2 linked regions of the Homo sapiens genome follow. The protein of the gene in region 1 binds, or shares a complex with, the protein of each later gene. Each region holds a gene or a part of one and is shown in the gene's direction. Other genes may lie near its edges. The genes, in order: TARDBP and ANXA11.

Region 1 (3,653 bases):
GACAGTGGGGTTGTGGTTGGTTGGTATAGAATGGTGGGAATTCAAATTTTTCTAAACTCATGGTAAGTATATTGTAAAATACATATGTACTAAGAATTTTCAAAATTGGTTTGTTCAGTGTGGAGTATATTCAGCAGTATTTTTGACATTTTTCTTTAGAAAAAGGAAGAGCTAAAGGAATTTTATAAGTTTTGTTACATGAAAGGTTGAAATATTGAGTGGTTGAAAGTGAACTGCTGTTTGCCTGATTGGTAAACCAACACACTACAATTGATATCAAAAGGTTTCTCCTGTAATATTTTATCCCTGGACTTGTCAAGTGAATTCTTTGCATGTTCAAAACGGAAACCATTGATTAGAACTACATTCTTTACCCCTTGTTTTAATTTGAACCCCACCATATGGATTTTTTTCCTTAAGAAAATCTCCTTTTAGGAGATCATGGTGTCACAGTGTTTGGTTCTTTTGTTTTGTTTTTTAACACTTGTCTCCCCTCATACACAAAAGTACAATATGAAGCCTTCATTTAATCTCTGCAGTTCATCTCATTTCAAATGTTTATGGAAGAAGCACTTCATTGAAAGTAGTGCTGTAAATATTCTGCCATAGGAATACTGTCTACATGCTTTCTCATTCAAGAATTCGTCATCACGCATCACAGGCCGCGTCTTTGACGGTGGGTGTCCCATTTTTATCCGCTACTCTTTATTTCATGGAGTCGTATCAACGCTATGAACGCAAGGCTGTGATATGGAACCAGAAGGCTGTCTGAACTTTTGAAACCTTGTGTGGGATTGATGGTGGTGCCGAGGCATGAAAGGCTAGTATGAGCGAGAAAAGGAGAGAGCGCGTGCAGAGACTTGGTGGTGCATAATGGATATTTTTTAACTTGGCGAGATGTGTCTCTCAATCCTGTGGCTTTGGTGAGAGAGTGTGCAGAGAGCAATGATAGCAAATAATGTACGAATGTTTTTTGCATTCAAAGGACATCCACATCTGTTGGAAGACTTTTAAGTGAGTTTTTGTTCTTAGATAACCCACATTAGATGAATGTGTTAAGTGAAATGATACTTGTACTCCCCCTACCCCTTTGTCAACTGCTGTGAATGCTGTATGGTGTGTGTTCTCTTCTGTTACTGATATGTAAGTGTGGCAATGTGAACTGAAGCTGATGGGCTGAGAACATGGACTGAGCTTGTGGTGTGCTTTGCAGGAGGACTTGAAGCAGAGTTCACCAGTGAGCTCAGGTGTCTCAAAGAAGGGTGGAAGTTCTAATGTCTGTTAGCTACCCATAAGAATGCTGTTTGCTGCAGTTCTGTGTCCTGTGCTTGGATGCTTTTTATAAGAGTTGTCATTGTTGGAAATTCTTAAATAAAACTGATTTAAATAATATGTGTCTTTGTTTTGCAGCCCTGAATGCAAAGAATTCATAGCAGTTAATTCCCCTTTTTTGACCCTTTTGAGATGGAACTTTCATAAAGTTTCTTGGCAGTAGTTTATTTTGCTTCAAATAAACTTATTTGAAAAGTTGTCTCAAGTCAAATGGATTCATCACCTGTCATGCATTGACACCTGATACCCAGACTTAATTGGTATTTGTTCTTGCATTGGCCAAAGTGAAAATTTTTTTTTTTCTTTTGAAATCTAGTTTTGAATAAGTCTGGGTGACCGCACCTAAAATGGTAAGCAGTACCCTCCGGCTTTTTCTTAGTGCCTCTGTGCATTTGGGTGATGTTCTATTTACATGGCCTGTGTAAATCTCCATTGGGAAGTCATGCCTTCTAAAAAGATTCTTATTTGGGGGAGTGGGCAAAATGTTGATTATTTTCTAATGCTTTGTAGCAAAGCATATCAATTGAAAAGGGAATATCAGCACCTTCCTAGTTTGGGATTTGAAAAGTGGAATTAATTGCAGTAGGGATAAAGTAGAAGAAACCACAAATTATCTTGTGCCTGAAATCCATTAAGAGGCCTGATAGCTTTAAGAATTAGGGTGGGTTGTCTGTCTGGAAGTGTTAAGTGGAATGGGCTTTGTCCTCCAGGAGGTGGGGGAATGTGGTAACATTGAATACAGTTGAATAAAATCGCTTACAAAACTCACACTCTCACAATGCATTGTTAAGTATGTAAAAGCAATAACATTGATTCTCTGTTGTACTTTTTTGTAACTAATTCTGTGAGAGTTGAGCTCATTTTCTAGTTGGAAGAATGTGATATTTGTTGTGTTGGTAGTTTACCTAATGCCCTTACCTAATTAGATTATGATAAATAGGTTTGTCATTTTGCAAGTTACATAAACATTTATCAATGAAGTCATCCTTTAGACTTGTAATCGCCACATTGTTTCATTATTCAGTTTCCTCTGTAAAGGGATCTTGAGTTGTTTTAATTTTTTTTTTCTGCATCTGAATCTGCATGATTTCCAAACCCTGTACCATCTGAATTTTGCATTTTAGCACTTGCACTATTACTCAGCAGCAGTAACATGGTAACACTTAAAATGGTACTCGGGGACCTCCAAAGACTAAACTGACAAGCCTTCAAGGAGCCCAGGGGTAAGTTAACTTGTCAACGGCATGGTTTAATCCCTTCTTTACACTTGTGTAAATTTCAGTTACTGGTCATAGAAGGCTTTCAATGTTGAGTGGCCTTTTATTAACATGTTTATGGTACTGCATAGATACGGGTATTTATTTTACCCTAAGAAGATTTTGAAGTTTAAAAGTACTTAAACTATTTGGCAAAGATTTGTTTTTAAAAATCTATTTGGTCAATCTAAATGCATTCATTCTAAAAAATTTTTTGAACCAGATAAATAAAATTTTTTTTTGACACCACAGTTTAGTGTCTGGAGTCTTACTGGAAAAACACGATTTCTTTTTATATGTGATATACAGATGCTGGAAAGTTACCTTTAAAAATTGAGTCTCTAAAGAAAAAAGAAAATAATAAAAATTGAGTCTCAAGAAGTTGTACTTCATATGCACAAGAGAAATGAGGCCAAGACTCACAGTAAGCTTTTACATGGAATGGTAACTTTTAGTTAGACTGAAAAACTTGAATGTTAGCTATTAAAACCTTTTAGGAAGGAATAGCCAGCTAAAACCAAATGAGATTTTTAAAGTTAAATCAGCACTTAAGTTGTGTCCTTAGTAGGAAAAAGTAGGAAGTTAACTACTCCGTAATCCAAGAGATAATGTGTAACAGTAAGAATGATTTTGTTGTTGTTGAGTATGAGCAAAGTAGCCCCTAAGTGTGTATTAGGGTTCTGTACTTAACTGTTGTGTGATGTGTGCTTTTGTTAGGCATCACTGTGCCCAAGTATTTCATGTTCATTGTAAAGAGGAAAAATACAGATTTCTCTATAATGTCACCACTTATTTCTAATGCCACTTTTCATCTTGTGGAAATGCCATGTTTTGATTCAGTCTTCTGAATTTGAACATTATTCAGGTTATTTCCAATTGCTGGGAATATCCTTACTGCTAAAATAAATTCTTAGCATTGGAATTGCTAGGTCAAAGATTATGCATGCTTTTTAAGGGCTTTTGAAATGTATTGCCAGTCTGTGGCCTGCCACCCTCCCTGAACATGCCTGGTCTTGCTTAAAATGTATTGCCAAATAGTCCTTGGGAAGTTTATGTTGTCTTTAA
Region 2 (3,914 bases), on another chromosome or scaffold:
GGCACAGTGGCTCATGCCTGTAATCCCAGCACTGTGGGAGGCCGCAGCGGGCAGATCACTTGAGGCCAGGAGTTCAGACCAGCCTGGCCAACATGGCGAAACTCCATCTCTACTAAAAATACAAAAATTAGCCAGGGATGGTTGCGCCCTCCTGTTGGAGGCTGAGGCACAAGAATCCCTTGATCCCAGGAGGCGGAGGTTACAGTGAGCTGAGCTCGCACCACTGCACTCCAGCCTGGGTGATAGAGTGAGACGCTGTTTAAAAAATAAAAGTAGGCCAGGCATGGTGGCTCATGCCTGTAATCTTAACACTTTGGGAAGCCGAGGCAGGCAGATCACCTGAGGTCAGGAGTTCGAGACCAGCCTGGCCAACATGGTGAAACCCTGTCTCTGCTAAAAATACAAAAATTAGCCAGACATGATGGCGGGCGCCTGTAATCCTAGCTACTTGGGAGGCTGAGGCAGGAGAATCACTTGAACCCAGGAGGCAGAGGTTGCAGTGAGCCGAGATCACACCATTGCACTCCAGCCTGGGTTACAGAGTGAGACCCTGTCTCAAAAAAATAAAAATAAATAATAAAAAAACTTAAAAAGAACAGCATATACCAGCCTCGGCAACATAGTAAGACTCTCAAAAAAAAAAATTAGCTGTGTGTGGTGGCACATGTCTTTAGGAGGCTGAGGCGGGAGGATTACCTGAGCCCAGGAGGTCCAGGCTGCAGTGAGCCATGATTGTGCCAGTGCACTCCAGTCTGGGTGACAGAGCGAGACCCTGTCTCAAACAAACAAAACCCAATATGCCCAGTTCTTCAAGATAGATATGAAGGGCAGCTAGACTCTTATAGTTGGATAGCGTGGCTAGAACAGTGGTCTTCAAAGTGAGTTCCCTGGACCAGTAACATCATCTGGAAACTTGTTCCAAATGCAAAAACTGGTTCCACTGTCTCAGAAACTCTTGGTGGTGGAGCCCAGCAATGTGTTTTAACAATCCCATCAGGTGATTCTGATATGCATTGCAGCGTGAAACCCAGTGTGTAAAAAGAAGCCACATACTCGAGACGAGCAGGTGTGATTGTTGAGGGACCCTGCAGGTTTCCTCACATGTCCGCCTGCCATTGGGTGTCTCTGCAGACTGCAGCAGCAGCTGCTATTAGCAAGAGCAGGCAGGTTGCACAATGTGGCTGGTGTCACAGCAGATCTGTGTCCCTCCTCACAATTTAACTGGCAGGGGACATTGCCAAGGGATCCGTGTTCAGAGGGACTTCGTGAGAGCAGGTGTCTCACCTGGCACCTGTCCAGGCTGCTCTTCCTCCCTTACTGACAGATCTGCAAATCACTTACTTCTCTTAATCAGCAGCCTCTACTGCAGAAACAGGGTGATGCTGCCTCATTTGCCCTGGTTCTTCACCCTGCATCAGATGAACCTCCTGAGGGCCCTTTTTGCTTCTAGGAACGATGATTCCATACCTTACCAGGTCCCCTTGCCTGATGAACCAGAGGTTGGAGAATGAAGAGAGACAGGGGCCTCTGACTTCCCCTGTTGCTGGAGGGATGGCAATAAGGACACAGGAAGATAAATAGACAGACCTGGAGTCCTGAGAATGAGGCAGTGCGTCTCTACCTCTGAGGTGGGAGAACAGGCCCAGAGGCGCACTGCACCCTTGCCAGCAGAGGCAGGAGCAAAGCTTCAGTGAGAGGGCCTTTCAAGGAAACTGGCTCATGGGGAGTGAATCCTGTCACTGTGGGTGGGGCCGGGGGTGTGGCCCTGGCCCAGAAGTCAGGCAGCATGCTGGTGGGTACTGTTTCTAGCTGGAGGCACCAGCAGGAGACAGTGAACTGGTCTGCGACAAGCAGGGCAGATGCAGCAGTTTCTTCTGCAGGGTCCCAGTTGTGGTGGTGGCTGCCCTTTCAAGAAGCTGGGTCCCACGGGCCAGCAGGGGCTCTCAGGCAGAGCCTGAATGTGCTTTCGTCTTCTCTTCCAGATCTAACCATGAGCTACCCTGGCTATCCCCCGCCCCCAGGTGGCTACCCACCAGCTGCACCAGGTAAGAGGGTCTGGGGTGGGGAGGAGAGTGAATGCTGCCTCTGTACAGTGGCTGGGAGTGGAGAGGGGAGAACAGTAGTTTCCTCACTCCCCTCCTCCCCTCACAGCACGGCCCAGCAGGGGAGGAGAGGACAACAGGAGTAGTGGGACAGCCAGCCGAGGCAGGGGCTGGAGAAGAGCATGACACTAAGGCCATCGGAGGCCTAGGTTTGAAACTGCCTCCAGAAAGCCCTGGACCAGGCCCAGGGCTGGGTCTCTTGCCTTACTCTCTAGTAACAGTGGGCAAATGCTGTCACTTTGAGACTCAGTTTTCTTCTCCGCAAAATTGCTTCAAGGATTTCTCCCTCATTAGGTGGTCCTGGATACTGATGAGATAGGCAGGCAGAGCGACACGGTGTCCTCCAAAGCATTGCTAGGTGATGGTTGCCCCTTACCACCTCTCCTACCCTCTGCTCAAGGTGTGTGGGTTTGCAGCAACAAGATCCCCCTTGCCAAGAGAGGAAGTGGAGGCAGATGCTAAGGGTCAAAGGTCACTCCCTGTTTTCTGCAGGAGCTGTGGGTAGTCACATGGAGAAGTCGTCTTCTCTGGCCCTGGCCCCTTTTGGTCCTCAAATGAGATTTGGTCCCCACTGTGGGAAAGGAAATATGAGGGCTCATGAGACCAAGGGGAGAAAAGGGTCATTCCAAGGCTGGTCATCCTGAGGGTGCCTGAGCCGCTGCCCCTCTCCCCAGGGGACTCCTAGGCATCATTGATTTCTTTGGAGCTGAGGTCCTGTGGTTTGAACACCCCAGACCTGCAGGCCATTTACCTTCCCTCCCATTCAGCAGGTGAAGAACAGACTCAGACCTAGAGGTGGCTCAGCTGCTGTCCCAGGGCATGTTAGGGGCTGAGCTGGGCCACTGCCCTCTGAATGAGCCCACCCCAGGTTGGCTGGCACTGGCCTGGGTTCTCTCTCTATAGTAGAAATCCTGCCATCCAGATCCTGCCACTGCCACCTTTGCTAGCACAGCTGAGCAGCCTCTGAGCAGCAAGAGAGGAGGAGGCAGGAAATTTAGGGAAGGTTCTTCCTGGAGGGTCTGGAGCCCTGGAGATGAAGAGCCGATCCGAAGCTGCCATGTAGAGGAAAGCATCTAACAGGCCAGAGGCCCCATGATGATGTCGAATGCCCATCGGGCACCCAGCTGAGCCCTGCAGGTGTTAACTCAGTCTTCGTCACAGCAGTCTAGGCATACACTCACCATTAGCCCATTTGTAAGCTGAGGAAACAAGCCTAAGGAGGGTGAAAGCCTTGCCCCAGGGCACATACCGGTCCTGCTGGTTTCAGAGCGGGCTTTTCACCTCTGTTTCTTCCTGTCCTCTTGTGGACTGGTATCTGTGTTTACCATGACCCAGCCCCATGTCCCTCCAGCCTCTTATCCTGCTTCTCCCTGCCTTTTACAGACTTGTAATAGCAAACAGCCAAACCCCCTCCCGCCAGTGCCTTCGCATTACTGAAATCTCAGAGCTCCCTATGGTCACCTCTGTCATGGGCTCAGCATGGTGTCCCACAACAGTCTGTCCTTGTCTGTCCTCCTGCTCCATGATGGTGAACTTGGGAGGGCAGAGCCTGCCTGGGCTCTCCCAGCCTCCTTAATACCCCACAGAGGGTCTTGGGAGTGTTTGGGGAACTCCACCTTCCTCCCTGGGAAGAGGGGAAGGTTTCCCCTCCTCTGCCAGTGGGATAGGGGGAGACTTTCCTCCTGGTGTTTTCATGTGGTCTGTGGTGTCCCGAGGCTCGAGGCTCGAGGCTTTACTGGGCCTCCCTTTCTGACCACCTGGGAGCTCTCATCTCTGCCTTTCCCCGTGTGGTGGGGGACTGGCAGGGGGCTA

The links.
Region 2: the proteins of TARDBP (region 1) and ANXA11 are in contact, whole or in part, in a cryo-EM structure (PDB 9FOR), measured with the Homo sapiens proteins. Residues at the interface, in NP_031401.1 of Homo sapiens: Ala328, Leu330, Ser332, Trp334, Gly335, Met337, Gly338, Met339, Ala341, Ser342, Gln343; in NP_001148.1 of Homo sapiens: Gly56, Met57, Ala59, Met61, Ser62, Gly63, Phe65, Asn69, Pro71, Asn72, Leu73.

What each region holds. Positions count from the first base shown.
Region 1 is NC_000001.11:11,022,654-11,026,306, forward strand, and holds the end of TARDBP (TAR DNA-binding protein 43), read left to right. Parts: coding exon 1-1; 3' UTR 2-2,839; downstream 2,840-3,653. UniProt on the Homo sapiens protein: RNA-binding protein that is involved in various steps of RNA biogenesis and processing.
Region 2 is NC_000010.11:80,170,938-80,174,851, reverse strand, and holds part of ANXA11 (annexin A11), read left to right. Parts: intron 1-1,982; 5' UTR 1,983-1,990; coding exon 1,991-2,045; exon of another isoform or gene 2,046-3,581; coding exon of another isoform or gene 3,582-3,914. UniProt on the Homo sapiens protein: Binds specifically to calcyclin in a calcium-dependent manner. Required for midbody formation and completion of the terminal phase of cytokinesis.